Linked DNA regions of Homo sapiens: region 2 is linked to region 1. Evidence: fine-mapped expression QTL. Tissue or cell type: esophagus mucosa. Region 1 holds a variant in brackets; the other region holds the start of a gene. All regions are shown on one strand. Distances are from middle to middle.

The links. PIP is the estimated chance that this variant, and not a neighbour inherited with it, causes the effect.
Region 2: NIPA2 starts here. The variant in region 1 is fine-mapped to the expression of NIPA2 in esophagus mucosa (GTEx, PIP above 0.99).

The regions. Positions count from the first base shown.
Region 1 is chr15:23,780,083-23,788,190 of GRCh38, forward strand. No RefSeq gene overlaps it. Among named protein-coding and RNA genes, the nearest start is that of NDN, 97 kb to the left of the region's middle. The variant A/G (reference allele first, on the strand shown) is at 3,301.
Region 2 is chr15:22,834,983-22,843,090 of GRCh38, forward strand. It overlaps NIPA2 (NIPA magnesium transporter 2), which reads left to right and starts at 3,684. Exons shown (of 8, transcript NM_030922.7): 1 at 3,684-3,939; 2 at 4,673-4,808. RefSeq lists an enhancer at 3,581-3,810.

The DNA.
Region 1 (8,108 bases):
TATAATTTGGTATGGGCTGTGGAGGTTCTAATATGCAATAGAATAAATCCCAGATATTTTGTGAACTATGAGTCAGAATGAATGAGTACTTACTGTAATTTAGTAAGTGGTACTTTAAAATCTGATGGGGTAAGGAGGAAAATTTGATTGAAGGGAGAAACAAAAAGGGAACCATTTCTCATTTTCATCTTCTGATGCCCCGTTCTGAATGTGACACCCAGGACATGTTTTATGAGACCACTGGATATATACCCAAAAGTTTGCAAGGAGCGTGTCTTAGAAAAGAAAGTTTTGCCTGCTGTGGAGATGTGGCAGCGCTGGACTGGAAAATGTTAAGGAATGTGAATTTTCTTCATGTGCTGGAAGGCTTTGTTGGCACTGCATCCTCCTCTTAGATGCATGGAGGGCATGAGAGTAAGATTGGAGTGGAAGCAGGAACATGATGGCTCTTGGCACAGAACAGACAGGGATGCCAGCAATGCTTTCTCTTCTTGCATGTCCTTTCTCCTCATAAGCTGTCACTGTGGATATAGACCAAGCTATCTTCCCTGTAAATAGACCTGATCCACACACTGCCCTGTCCCATAGGTCAGCCATAGTGTACTATTCATAAATAGAAATCAAGTGACTGAGCAAACTCAGATAATATGTGATAGAGACCGGAAGTGAAAGGAGATAGGAGTTTGATAAATGGACATGTATTACACTGGAGGAGCTGCAGCTGAAGAAGAGAAGGCTTGATCCCCAAATGGGAAGGATGCCCATGCCATCCACATTCTTCACTGAACATGGCTGAGTCCCAGATGGTTTCTCTGTGTATGCGGCCCGACTTCAGAGGGAGAGAATCAATGTGAACTCTCTAATGTGATAGAATGCTCTAATTGGATTAAGCACATTCTGAGTAAAGGCTGGTGGCATCAGACCTACTGAGGCACCAACTGTGTTTCTGAGAGTTAAGGTGAAGAGGGCTGGTGGAGGGAGGGTGTAGTGTGGAGAATGCCAGGAGAGATGAGCATGTGGTATGGATCAGAGAGGTCTCTCTGGGCCACAGCTGTGCCTCCCTTTGACCTGTACAAGGTAAGAAGAGGAGGGACGAGTGCTGCCTGTTCATTTTTCTCCTTTTCTTTTTGAGCTCACATTTGTAGTAGGATGTTTCTCCTCATGGACTGACTCCTAAGTGTGACTGCAGATTAATCTACTCCATCAACTTTCACATATTCATCCACACACAAAACATAAAACTTAGACATAGGATAAAAGAGCCCACCTTGATCATCTATGAAACACGATGTGGGCCATGAGGCAACTGCACTTTCATAAAGGTTGCTTCAAGGCCTGTGTGGATAACATTTCAGGAGGACTGACTGGAGGCAGCCCTTGTGGGAGAACTAAAGCTCATCTATAAAATCTGTGCTCTGTTTCCTGCCCCCCTTCCTGACCCTGCTTGCTACTACCCACACATTTGTGCTAAGCAGGAACAGAGTTGAAGGGCTAAGGGGTCGGGTGTGTGTGGCTCATCCTAGTGGAAGGCAGGATGTTTGAAATTGGGTCCACAATATTCCAAACTGGGAAAATGCCCATTTTTCATAGGATCAGGAGATGCTCTGGCAGCCTGGACACCTGCTTCCTGACCTATATGGTTTGCAGGCCAGTCGTGCCTGAGGAAGTCCAGCTATCCACCGTCGAGTAGGAATCTTGCTCCAGCTCCTTATTCCTACTGCGAATTCATAGCATCACCCCCTGGCAGGCGGGGAGGGGGAAGAAGTGCTAACTGCTGGCTACAAAGTCAGGCCAGTACAGAGTTACTGTGAAACTGGTGAATCGGTGTCCTTAGATATAATAATTCTTTTCAGGGAAACTGCAGAGTCGTGATTCTGAACATGTTCAATGGGAAATTTGTTTGTGTAAAAGACAGGCACATTGGTTTTGTCCTTTCTGGGAGGCGTCCTCTTGATACTGGTCCGTTCTTTCTGGCGCACTGGAGAGATTTCTTCCTGCCTTTGCAGTTTTATGAGGGTGGGGGGTGGAGGGGTGAAAAAGGGGTGACTTTCCATGCTGGGGTCTTCCCGGATACCCCTCTTTGTTTTTCTAAGTCTACCTTGACTCACAGAAGGAGAAAAGAGGGAATTGTTCCTACCCGCACAACTTGTGGGTAGTAGCAAGCAGGGTGAGGAAGGGGGCTTGCTTTAGATTTAAATAAAAGTTGCAGTGGTGATACAGAGAGTTCCTGTATGCCCTACACCCAGTTTTCCCCATTACTAACATCTTGCATTAGTGGCATATTTATCACTACTAAGCGACCAATACTGACATGATTGTTAACTAAAGTCCATGCTTTATTGCTATTCCTTTAGTTTTTACCTAGTACCCTAATGTCCTTTATCTGCTTCAGGATCCCATCCAGGATACCACATTTATATCTATTTGTCATGCTTCCTTAGACGACTCCTGGTTGTCACAGGGACTCCAGTTTTGATGACCTTGATAGTTTTGGGGAGTCCTGGTCAGATATTTTGTAGACTGCCCCTCTACTGGAAATTTATTTATTTATTTATTTTTGAGATAGAGTCTTGCTGTGTCACCCAGGCTGTGTGTTCAGTAGCTCGATCTTGGCTCACTGCAACCCCTTCCTCCCGGGTTCAAATGATTATCCTGCCTCAGCCTCTCAAGTAGCTGGAATAACAGGTGTACACCACCACACCCCTGATGACTTATGTATTTTTAGTAGAGACAGTGTTTCACCATGTTGGCCAGGCTGGTCTCGAACCCCTGACCTCAAGTGATCTGCCTGCCTCAGTCTCCCAAAGTGCTGGGATTACACGTGTGAGCCACCACCACCGGGAATCTATTGGAAATTCAGTGCTGTTTTTCTCATGATTAGACTGGAGTTTTTGGGTTAGCAAGGGAAGACCACAGAGGTCATCATTGTTTTCATAATATGGTATCAGGAGTGCATGCTGTCATCATGACTGATCGCTGTTGATGTTGACTTAAATCACATGGATGAGGTAGTGTTTTCCAGGTTTCTCCATGGTAAAAGCTCTTTTTCCCCTTTCCATACTGTAGTTATTGACAGAAAGTCACTGTGTGCAGTCCCCACTTCAGGGATTATGCTCCCCTCCCTGATGGCGGAGTATCTGCATATATTATTTGGAATTCTGCAAGCAGGCCTCTTTTTCACCCTCTGAATCTTAGAATTTTGAATGCTTAAAAGCGGTGGGCTGAGTGTGAGGTAAGAAAAATCAAGATGTTTAATTGGACATCTCTTGTATAACCTGGTAGCCAGTCTTAGATTTGTTG[A/G]AAGTGTGATATTTTTTTCTTCCTAAGGTAAGGACCAGGTGGTGCTCTGGGAGGGTGTTTAGAGAATGGAGGTGGAATGGGCTTCTTCCAGAGCCCACGCATGAACTGTGGGCAGTGGCTTGGTTACCCCAAGTTCCTGAATGTTTCCCTTGCAACATGGAAGGGGACAAGGAATATTGTGAAAGGGAAGATGTATATATGTTTGGTTTCTGGGGAAAAGGGACATTAGAAGTAGCCATGAGGGGCCGGGTGCAGTGGCTCACACCCGTAATCCCAGCACTGTGGGAGGCCGAGGCTGGCGGATCACCTGAGGTCAGGAGTTTAAGACCAGCCTGGACAATATGGTGAAACCTGGTCTCTACTAAAAATGAAAAAATTAGCTGGGCGTGGTGACAGGTGCCTGTAACCCCAGCTACTCAGGAGGCTGAGGCAGGAGAATCAGTTGAACCCAGGAGGTGGAGGTTGCAGTGAACCAAGATCACACAATTGCACTCCAGCCTGGGCAACAGAGCAAGACTCTGTCTCAAAAAAAAAGGACGCATGACAGGGCAGTACAAGGTGCTGGACCCTAACAAGATAAGGAAAGTGTCCAAGGACAGGGCCCAGCACTGGGATTGAGGAGGGCTGTGTGGAAGTCCATTCTCCAAGAGTGAAGTTCTGGTTTTCATTATCCTTCACCCATGTGCTGACTTAATGCTTCTACAATGTGTGATCACTCTCCCATAGTGGCTGCTGTCTTCTCCCTGTACCTCCCCACCTTGCTCAGACTCCCCACCCCACTGGCCCCCAACAGCTGCATTCTGTCCTCACAGCTTTCTGGCTCTAATACCCCATGTAGGGCCTCCACGCTCATGGGGAAGAATCACACAGAATTTCCCACTACCCAATGCTTCCCTTTGTGTGATCTGGACAGAGAGAGGTCAGGGGGTCTGAAACTTGGGCTATATGACAAAATGAGGTGTTAATGTTTAAAATCTGAGAAAAGGCCTGTTTTTCTCAGATTTTTGTTCTTGTAAACAAAACTCATGATTCCCTGAATAAATTGAACTTATGGCAGACATGCTAATCAACTTTAATAAGTTGTACTGCAGTATCAAAGACCCCTCAGAATTACGTTGATTTGCAATCACGAACACCTATTTCTTCTTCATGTATAAAAATAACAATGGTTGACTACTGCTTTGTTTCATGTATCTTCTGGGATCTAGGTGGCAAACACACCACATTACAGCAGAAGGAAAAGTAATCACACATCTTTGGATGCATATCTTCAAGTATCTACGTGGTCGTGGCAACCATCACTTCAGCTCACATTCTCAAAGGCAGTTGTAGGCCCAAGCAGAATGTCTGTGAGACATAGAGTATATCCTTTTTATAGGGAAGGGTGAGGGAACAATGAAAAACAACAATGGAAAGAACAATTCATCCTGAGGCAGAATTCCTCTCTAGCTGTGAACCTGTGTAATCGAACAAGTTATACAAAATACAACCGTCATGGTATAGGGTAGTCACTCCCATTTCAAAAAGGAGTAACAGGAAAGAAGGAAGGGGTGAATGGGTCCCAATCAAGTCCAAAATCTAGCAAGGTAAGCTCCATGAAATCTTAAGGCTCCAGAATTTAACTGTTTGAGGTCTTCATCAATTTTGGAAAATCCTCAGGCATTATTTCCTCAGATACTGCTTTGGTCCCATTTATCTCTCTTTCTTCTACTTTGCAGATTCTAATTCCAAATAATGTTCAAATCTTTACTGTTTCCTAAATGTCTCAAATATAGATTTTCAATAATTTATCTCTGTAATTACTTTAATATATTAGCTGTTGATCTTTCTATGTATTATTCACTCTATTATTCACTCATACAAAGTTCTTAATTTTAGCTACTGAATTTTTATTTTTATAATTTGAGTATTTTATGTGTTACTCACCTTTGGAAACTTTTCATATTTTCATCTTTTTATATCTTTTTTATAAAAATTTTGTCTTTTTAAGCAAACAAAAAAAAAAGACAAAGCAAAAAGGTTTTGTCTTTTTAAGCAAAGATGTTACTTAAAAATAGAAGTGGGAGTATCCACTTACCAACTTCCTCAGTACCTGTAGAAAAATTAGCTTGCCAGTTAGAAATAATAAGATGTACAGTAAAGTGTCAATTTAAGGTGTCAATCATTTAAAAAAACATTAACCTAAAGCACAGCTATCAATAATATTCAAGATAATTTTATGGGAAAATGACATTAAATTTCACTTTCATAAAAATACCAGAGAATGGTACTTGAGACCACTCACAGTACAAACCTGGTTACAAATATTGCTTCATTTCCCTTAAGTATGCAGAAGCCACTCCCTCCTTTAAGTGAACCCCCAGTGTGTCATCTAATCACACCATCAGACTTCAAGTCTTGGATCTCATATGGCACTTTAACTTTACTGTATAGGGTCTTTGGTATCTAGAGATTTGAAAGATATGTTGGCGGCTCCACACACAATCACACAATCCACATGTAATATTGGGGCAGGGTAATCTCGATAAATACTCGCTTTCAGAAAGGGGAAGGAAGGCGGCACTCAGCCATCAGTGCGTAACAAAAATTCTGAAATCTGTTCGGACAAACATTGTGAGGACCCCCAGCTAGTTGGTAGACAACCTTATTTCAACCATCCCAGTGTCTGCTGCCTTGGAGCAGGTCTCTAGTCGGTCATACTCTGAGATTCTTGGCTCCACACCCCGGGAAGTCCATCCTTCCCCATCCATTTCCTTGGCCACATGAGAATTGGGCATAAAAGAATATTCTCTCTTTGGGAAAAGAACAGAATATTGTTGGCTCAAAGGTAATTTTACTTCTCAAACAGCTACAGGCTATTTTGGCAGTACAACTCTCTCAAAGCCTAATTAGTTTTTGTTCTGCAAAATTCCAGTGTGCCGACAGTTATATCCACAATTCTTTTCATGACCTGTTCTACCTTAGCTTGAGGTAAGATGAAGTAAATTGAGGTAGCAGACTTCCAAGAAAGAGTCACACCCTTTGGCTTTTTTGTTCTCTGAGACATTCCGCATAAAAAGTGTTGACTTGATTTCCCTTCATTCAATTCAGAGGTCATAACAAAGGGCATGAGGCCAATGATTTGGTCTTTACTGTAACACTGAGTTTTGATCCTTGTTCCTCAATTTCAGCTCGCATCATTTGGAGAGAACAGTCAATTCCATCTTTTGACCTTGCTGTCAGATACACAATTTATTATCCGAAATTATCTTGTTCTTGTAATACCTTTTCTAAAGTAGCCAACAGCAGCTAAAACATGCTAGTTGCCTTCAGTCTCCCAGACTCTTTGGCTAAATTCATAAGCTCATTCCAACTTATCATACACACATTGTAGCAAAATGCCTTATCAATAAAAACACGAGTCACTCTTATTTTCCAGGAGTTAATAAGAGCTTTGCAACTGCCTATCTCCTGGACTGGAGATAAATGTTTTAGCTTTTCATTCTGGTGACACCTCATAACTGGTACTGATTTCTTTATTCATTCATTTTCACTAGGTTATCGCTATGGTAAGAAATGACCCCCAAAACTCAGATACTCATAATTAATTAATTTCTTGTTTATATACATGTTAGCTGTGGGTCTGGTGGGGGTCAGTTGCAGTTTTTTGCATGTCTTTTGGGTTCTGGGATCCAGATTGAAAGACATGCCATTCTTATGACAGCAGGAACAGAAGCAATCACAGAAGTACGTGATGGCTCTTAGGGTTATGCTTGGTTGTGGCATTCATAATTTCTTCTCAAATTCCATTACCTCTAAAGCATAGCACATGCCTATGCATTGGATGGGATAAGAAAATCTTCTTATAAGAAAGTGGGAGTCAATAACTGGTACCAATAATGCAATCTACTGCCACATGAGAAGGAGACGAGGAAGTGTCCCGATCTTGAGATATCATCGTAGAGCCTTCATGAGTTATTTGTGTAGTAAATATACTTTTTGTACCTGTGTTCTCCACTTTTTTTTTTTTCTAGAGCTAAGTAGTAGATACGAGGCTAGAGATACATGGAAAAAAGGAGGAAGCATCTTCTTGCCTTTTTCTCTCCTTGCTGGAACCAATGTATCCAAATAGACCCTTTTCTATCCTGTTGCTAGGGAGACAGAACAAAACATGGCTCAACATTTACTCACTGTTAACCACCTGTTTCCCTGCTGACATGCACTGTAGTCACTGGGCTTTGAAATGGATTAAGGCAATCCCTGATGAAGGTGCCTGTAGTTGTATAAGAATACTCAGATAATCAGCTATTTTAAACAATTCATAAAATGTGAAATTAAAGAAGCAAGTGAATGGATGAGACAAACAAAGAAGCACCTTCTCATGAACAAAAGGGCTGGGCCTTACAAAAAGCATTTCTGGCCATGTAGTGAAAGCTGTGTCCTGTGAGTCTCTATCCTCATCCTCTGTGCTCATTCCTAGAACCATTTTCTGGCTTCAGAATGGGCACAGCTGCTGAGGACATGCTATGTGATTCACACTGTTACAAGCCAGAACGTGTAAAACAGGGGCCAAGGTTTTTTAAAGTGGTTCTTTAGTACAAGCAATATTCAGGTCTTATTGTCCATATTTGGCTACTGACTACAAAGTTTAGGAGCCAGCACATGGGAGGATGCAGGTGGGTAAGCAGGGAAAGCCTATGTCTCTGATGGGGAATGCACAGTTTTTTGCTTGCAGTAAGAACATTCTTTCTGTCTACAGTCAGTCTTGACTCTCTTCAGAAAGATAGGTGGGATTGTCTCCAGGACAGTGTTAGCTGGTTATTTTCTCT
Region 2 (8,108 bases), 950 kb before region 1:
TCCCGGGTTCCCGCTGTTCTCCTGTCTCAGCCTCCCGAGTAGCTGTTACTATAGGTGCCGCCACCACCACACCCAGCTAATTTTTGTAATTTTAGTAGAGACGGGGTTTCACCGTGTTAGCCGGGATGGTCTCAATCTCCTAACCTCGTGATCCGCCCATCTCGGCCTCCCAAAGGGCTGGGATTACAGGTGTGAGCCACCGCACCCGGCCTGCAAGTATTTTTATGGATACATTTCTGTTGAGTAAATACTCAGGAGTAGAACTGCCAGGTCATTTGGTCGGTGTATGTTTAACTTTTTAAGAAACTGTCAACCAATTTTCCAAGGAAATTGTCCCATTTTACAATTCCACCAGTAGTGTATGAGAAGGAGTTAGAGTTTTAAAACCTTAAAAATATCTCATGACAACTGCTTGAACACTCAGAGTATACAAGATGTACAACATCACGGGCTGGAGAAGTGATGTGGGCATGTAAGAAGCCTGCAGCATATTAGCAAGGTATATATAGACTTATAAAGACAATGCACTGTGCAGTGTCGGGGGAGGTGTCCGGTGGGAGGTCCAAATAATGACAGAAAGCTGATTAGATGAGGTGGAGCTCCAGCTGGCAGAAAGGAGTGACAAGCAAATTTGTTCGTTAGGTTAAATTAACATATCGACACCTAAGCATTCCTGTTCATGTGAACAAACCACTACTTTATTACTCATCTGCCTCCTAGAGCAGCAGTCCCCAACCCTTTTGGTACCAAGGACTGATTTCATAGAAGACAATTTTTCCACAGACGCTGGGGAAGGGGGGCGCGGGGAGGATGTTTTCGGGATGAAAGTGTCCCACCTCAGATCATCAGGCATTATTTAGATTCTCATAAGGAGCGTGCAACCTAGATCCCTCGCATGCACAATTCACAATAAGGTTCGCACTCTTGGGGACCTCTGTCCTAGAGGTATTTGTTGGCATCTGTATCAGTTAGTTATTGCTACATACCAATCTACCCCAAAATAAGTGGCTCAGACAATAGTAATTTATCCTTCCTCATGTGTTTATGGGTTAATGGGGCAGTTTTGGTCAGTGGCTGGTCTCAATGGTAGTCAGCCAGCATTTACCTAGGTGGATTTGCTGCTTGCCTTGCCCCATGTGGTCCCCTCCTCCAGCAGGCTAGTCCAGGCATCATAATTTAGTCTGGAACTGCCACATGTTCTTGGCCAAAGCCCAAGGCCAGTACAGATTCAGGAAATAGAGGGGAGCTGCAAAGTCACTGCAAAATGTGTGGGAAATTGGAGCCATTTTTCATCAATCTACCACATCACCTGAGACCAACTTGTCAACCGTCTTTCAATATTCAATGGAATTCCTTATCTGAGAGTGTCAACTAGCCAAAACATGGCTGAGACCAAAGAAAGTAATAGATCCTCTGAGCCAGTTCTGAGATGCAAGTAATAGGTCCTCTGAGCCAGTTTTAAGATGATTGCTAGGCTCACGGCAGATTAAAAGCTTTAAAATTAGAAGCTGCATAGTGACCTAAACCAAAACCAGAGTGGTCAGGGGCTGTGTATACAGTCTAGAACACAACAGTCCAATAGGATTAGAGCCTGAAAAGGACAAATGATATTTGGTGTTTTGTTTCAAAAAGTGCATAATTCATTTTATAAAGATCCTCCCCCCACATGATTTGAATTTCATATAATAGTGTTTTTGTGTCTAGTCACAACCTGGAACAACATTCCTAAGGGACTCTACACCTGCAACCAAGGAATCATTGATTTACTAGGAGATCTAACTCTAGCTGGCTACTCTTTGCTTCTTACAAATGAGCTCTGTCTTTGACTACTTTTGCAGAAACCACGTTGGTGGATCCCAAGGAATTTCTCCTTTCCAGGAGGAGCCAAGGCAGGATAGCCTAACAGTTAGTTTCCTATACATCTCATGAAAAATAAATCTGCGCTTTGGGAGGCTGAGGCGGGTGAATCACGAGGTCAAGAGATCGAGACCATCCTGGCCAACATGGTGAAACCCTGTCTCTAATAAAAATGCAAAAATTGGCTGGGTGTGGTGGCTCACACCTGTAATCCCAGCACTTTGGGAGGCCGAGGCGGGCGGATCACGAGGTCAGGAGTTCGAAACCAGCCTGGCCAACATGGTGAAACCCCATCTCTACTAAAAATACAAAAATTAGCTGGGCGTGGTGGTGTGCACCTGTAATCCCAGCTACTGGGGAGGCTGAGGCAGGAGAATGGCTTCATTGAACCCAGGAGGCAGAGGTTGCAGTGAGCCGAGATCGTGTCACTGCGCTCCAGCCTGGGTGACAAGAAAGACTCCGTCTTAAAAAAAAAAAAAAATTAGCCGGGCGTGGCGGCGCGCGCCTACAGTCCCAGCTATTCGGGAGGCTGAGGCAGGAGAATCGCTTGAACCGGGGAGGCGGAGTTTGCAGTGAGCCGAGATCGTGCCACTGCACTCCAGTCTGGCGACAGAGCGAGACTCTGTCTCAAAATCAATCATTCAATCAATCTGCTCTCAGTGTCTCGAGGCGGGCTTTCACCAAACGTCAACCTCACATCTATTCCGCGACCGGGTCAGTAAGGAAGGGCCCAGCGGTCGTCGAACTACCACAGCTATTTCGGCCCCGCCCCGTCCCGCCCCCAGCTTTGGACCCACCCTTTCCCCCGCTTCTTGCCCTCTTGGGAGCTCTGTTCCCCTTTGGCATCGCCCGGGGACACCAATTAAATGCAGCTTCACACTGTGACTGCCCCTGGGAACCCTCATTTTATTTTATTTATTTATTTATTTTTGAGAAGGAGTCTCGCTCTGTCGCCCAGGTGGAGTGCAGTGGCTGATCTCGGCTCACTGCAACCTCCGCCTCCCGAGTTCAAGCGATTCCCCTGCCTCAGCCTCTGGAGTAGCTGAGATTACTGGCGCGCACCAACACGTCCAGCTAATTTTTGTATTTTTAGTAGAGATGCGGTTTCCCCATGTTGGTCACGTTGGTCTCGAACTCCTGACCTCGTGATCTGCCCGCCTCGGCCTCCCAAAGTGCTGTGATTACAGGTGTGAGCCACCGCGCCCGGCCGGAACCCTCATTTATTCTATTTTTTTTTGAGACGGAGTCTCGCTCTGTCGCCCAGGCTGGAGTGCAGTGGCGGGATCTCCGATCACTGCAAGCTCCGCCTCCCGGGTTCGCGCCCTTCTCCTGCCTCAGTGTCCCGAGTAGCTGGGACTACAAGCACCCGCCACCACGCCCGGCTAATTTTTTGTATTTTTAGTAGGGGCGGGGTTTCACCGTGTTAGCCAGGATGGTCTCGATCTGCTGACCTCGGGATCCGCCCGCCTTGGTCTCCCAAAGTGCTGGGATTACAGGCGTGAGCCACAGCGCCGGGCCCGGAATCCTCGTTTTAAATAAGGGCCACGCCGGAGTTTGATTTTGAACTGATCGGCCAACGCCACCTGGCAGCATACTGTACTGCTTAACTACGCTTCCAGCTTCGTCCCTCGCCAGGTCCCGCCTGGATCCTGCGCCCCGCCCCCGTCCCCACACTCTACGCGCCCCGCCCTCCGCGCTCAGCCGACTGGGGCCTTGTAAAGGAACCGGAACCCGGCGGGAGAGAGCCCCGGGGGCGGGGTGTACGTGGTGCGGCACTGCGCGTGCGCGCGAGGCCTCTTGCGTCATTTAGCCGCGCCTAGGTTTTCCGGCGCCGGCCCTAGGTCCCGGCAGCGGTGGTGACGGCGGTGCCGGAGGTTGTCCTTGGCAGGTTTTCCTCGGCGCTTCTCCATGGAGGAGGCGGTGCGAACGGCTTCAGCCCCGAATGCTCGCATCTCCCACTGGACGGCGACGAAGGCGGTGGCCGTGCGAGCGCAGGACTGGGCGGCCTGTGTGGGGGTGTGAGCCGCGGTGCCCAAGGCTGCGCCGGCGAGGGGAAGCCGCGCGGCCGGCCGGCCGACTAGGGTGAGGTCGCCACTCCTTCCTTTCAGGCAAGCGCGAAGGGGCTGACTTGGTGGCGAGCCAGCCCGCCTTGTGTCGGAGAAGGGTTCTTCGGGCAACTTTCCTTTCCGGGTGTTCTGAAGCGGTTTTCCTGTAATCCTCAGTGAGGAAACCCACCGTGAATCGGATTGCCGTTCAGTCCCACGGAAGCCTGGCTCGTTGGCCATGTCGGGGACGCATGTTCATTAAGTTCATTAAAATAATTTCATTTGTCTTGGTGAGTTTTAGAAGGTGGCTTCAGCTGCTGCGGGGATCATAACTGACAGTTAAACAAGCCTTAGAAGTCTGCTGTGACGTTTTGAGCCTGACTGTTTTAATTTCCTTTTATAAAATCACGGAATCCTATTTCCCTCTCTATACAATTGCTCAAAACTGTGTGTTTAGTTTGGTGTTTGTGCCTCCTTAATTTCTTTTCTAGGTTGTTAGTTCATTTAATACAGGACTGCATGTTAAGTTCTGTTTCTAGAAATCCTGTGTATAGCCATGTGCCCGGTTAATACTTTTTTTAGTAAGAGGAAATATCAGAGTCGAGAGTTTCCATTCCAGTAAGCTGCCTGTCGAAGCAGTAGTTGTGCTCGATTGAGTAGGTTTTATGTTGATTGGTTGGCAAAATGAGTATGAAGGCTAGTAACCAAATTATAAAACGTACTTAGTAACTTTAAGTCTTTTGCCTACTTCTGTGTTTTCTTCTTTCTAGGCTGGAGCTACTCGGCCAGGGTTTAAGACTTTAAATGAGAATAAAGGGTGGTATTTACGAGGAAATGAGAGTGAATAAGTCATCTCTAACCTCTCCCAGCCTTTTTTTCATAAGAGAGACCATATTAAACTTACATGTAAGTTAAAATTGTAATTTATAACTAATATTGTTGCATAGTTAGGGTTGGAGATTTAGGTTCTGTAATATTTATAAGTACAGTACTGCTTTGAAAAATTATTAGCCAAGTGAGAGGTTGGAAAAAATTAAATCTAACATGTATTTAATTTTTCTGAGCCAAGGTCTTGCTCTGTCCCCAGGCTAGACGGTGCAATCTGGGCTCACTGCAACTTCCGCCTCCCGGGCTCAAGTGCTCCTCCCACCTCAGCCTCCCCAGCAGCTGGGACCACAGACGTGCGGCACCATGCCTGGCTAATTTTTGTATTTTTTTTAGAACCGGGGTTTCACCATGTTACACCGGCTGGTCTCCTAATTCTGGACTTAAGCGATCCAACCACCTTGGCCTCCAAAGTGCGGGGATTACAGGTGTGAGCCACCGAGCCGGGCCTAAGCTAACTTAGATAGCAGTGGAAACCAGGTAGTAAAGATTTCGTAGAAAACTAAGAGCTCTATATATAGTTTTTTTTTTTGTTTTTTTTTTTTTGAGATGGAATCTTGCTCTGTCACTCGGGCTGGAGTGCAGTGGCACGATCTCTGCTCACTGCAACCTCCGCCTCCTGGGTTCAAGCGGTTCTCCTGCCTCAGCCTCCGGAGTAGCTGGGGTTACAGGCGCCGGCGACCACGCCCAGCTAATTTTTGTATTTTTAGTAGAGACGGGGGTTTCACCTTGTTGGCCAGGCTGGTCTCTTAACTCCTGACCTCAGGTGATCCGCCCGCCTCGACCCCCCAAAGTGCTGGGATTACAGGCGTGAGCCACCGCGCCCGACCTAAGAGCTCTAAAGTGTTAATGTAATGTGGGCAGCCGGGTGTAGAAGTAAAGTCCCTTTCTGTGTGGTCCTCTGCATGTGACTCTTTTTTACCCCTGGGAGGTTTCCTTAGCTGTAAAGTGATACCTTCATCTTATTGCGTAGAAGAGAAATGAGTAGAAATGATGCATGGAATAGTGCCTGGGGAGGTGTTCAGTAAGTGGTAGCTATTGTTAGGGAGAGATAATAAAAAGAATTTCACATATTTTCAGAATGTTTTTAATAGGTAAATATGGTTTACTCATATTTAAAACACATGACTTTGAATATTACATTTTTTTATAGATGGTGTAAGCTTCATTTAAACTGATTTATTTGATTGCTATACATTGTGATATTGAACAGAAAGATAAGACTTCTGCAGAGAATAAAAGGTGGGGTGGGGGTGGGAGAGGAAATGGGAGATTTAGGTCACAGGATACAAAGTAGCAGATATTCAGGATGTACAACTTGAGAACTACAGCTAATGAAATTGTATTAGAGATTTTCCTTCAATGAGTAGATTTTAGCTGCTTTTGTCATAAAAAAGTAACTACATGAGATGATAGATATGTTGATTTGCTCTACTGTGGTAACTGTGTTAGTATCTGTATGTTTCCCATAACATAAATCTCAAATATACACAATTTGCAAAGATTTATCTGTGTTGTAGAATTAAATACACCCCTCAGACTAGATTAGAGCATCCTTAAACATTTCTGCATATCTATTTGTTTTATGTAAATGAAGTTGAAACAGAACTACTTAAATAGTTCTGTAATGGCTCCAGATGAAAATAAATTATGATCTGGCCAAATAAATGGGTTGCAGATCTGTTCCTTGCCTTTTGGGTTTGTGTATGGCCCATAGGGCCCCACGTGATCTGACACTCACCTTTTTTTTTCTTCTGAGATGCAGTTTTGCTCTTGTTGCCCAGGCTAGAGTGCAGCTGTGCGATCTCGGCTCACTGCAACCTCCGCCCTCCAGTTTCTAGCGATTCTCCTGCCTCAGCCTCCCGAGTAGCTGGGATTACAGGCGCCCGCCACCATGCCTGGCTGATTTTTGTATTTTTAGTAGAGTCGGGGTTTCACCATGTTGGTCAGGCTGGTCTCGAACTCCTGACCTCATGATCCACCCGCCTCGACCTCCCAAAGTGCTGGGATTATAGGCGTGAGCCACCGCGCCCGGCCGGACACTCGCTTTTTCACGCTAATGTATCTCACCTGCCCTCACTCAAGGTCAGCCACAGTGGCCTTTGTTTAGGAAACTGCACACCCGCTCATACCTCAGAGCCCCTGCACTTGCTTCTCTCTCCTTTGTTCTTTTCAAAAAGCTCTTTGAAGCTTCTACTCAAGTGTTACTGCTCAGCAAGGCCTCCTAACTATGGTCATTAGAATCCCCCAACTCAACTCCCCAGTGCCCTTCACATGTTTTATTTTTTACCATAACATTTGCCACTTTTCCAGAATAATGTCTTTATTTCGTTTATTATTTCGCCCTACCTCTAGCAGGAGATAACCCCATGTGGGCTGTTGTACCCCTGCTCCTAGAATATTGTACATGCTCAGTAAACGTTGGTTGGTTGAGTAAATGATATAAGCAAGCCACATGTTCACTGGGAGCCACAGTGAAGGCAATACTAGTTAAGTACCAAAGTAACCGTAACAGAGGGGTAGTTAGTGTCAACCAAATATGGAGGAGGAAAGGTAGGAGCAGGTTAGAATAGCAGCAGAGTGCTGACCGGGGTAGAACACAGGATGTGTGAAATATGGTATGGGGAAATAAGATCTAGGCTGGGCGCGGTGGCTTACGCCTGTAATCCCAGCACTTTGGGAGGCTGAGGTGGGTGGATCACAAGGTCAGGAGATCGAGACCATCCTGGCTAACATGGTGAAACCCCATCTCTACTAAAAAAAAAACCCAAAATATTGGCCGGGCACGGTAACTCACGCCTGTAATCCCAGCACTTTGGGAGGCCGAGGCAGAAGGATCACCCGAGGTCAGGAGTTCAAGACCAGCCTGACCAACATGGCGAAACCCCATCTCTACTAAAAATACAAAAATTAGCTGGGCGTGGTTGCAGGCACCTGTAATCCCAGATACTCAGGAGGCTGAGGCAGGAGAATCACTTGAACCTGGGAGGCAGAGGTTGCAGTGAGCCAAGATTGCGCCAGCGCACTCCAGCCTGGGGGATAGAGCGAGACTCTGCATCCAAAAAAATTAAAAAATGCAAAAAATTTGCCTAGTGTAGTGGTGGGCGCCTGTAGTCCCAGCTACTCGGGAGGCAGAGGCAGGAGAATGGCATGAACCCAGGAGGCGGAGCTTGCAGTGAGCAGAGATTGCGTCACTGCACTCCAGCCTGGGCAACAGAGTGAGACTCTGTCTCAAAAAAAAAAAAAAGAGAGATCTAAAAGGTAGGTTTGGAACAAATGATGCAGGGTCTTTGTTACTAGTTTACACAATTTGGTCTTCTT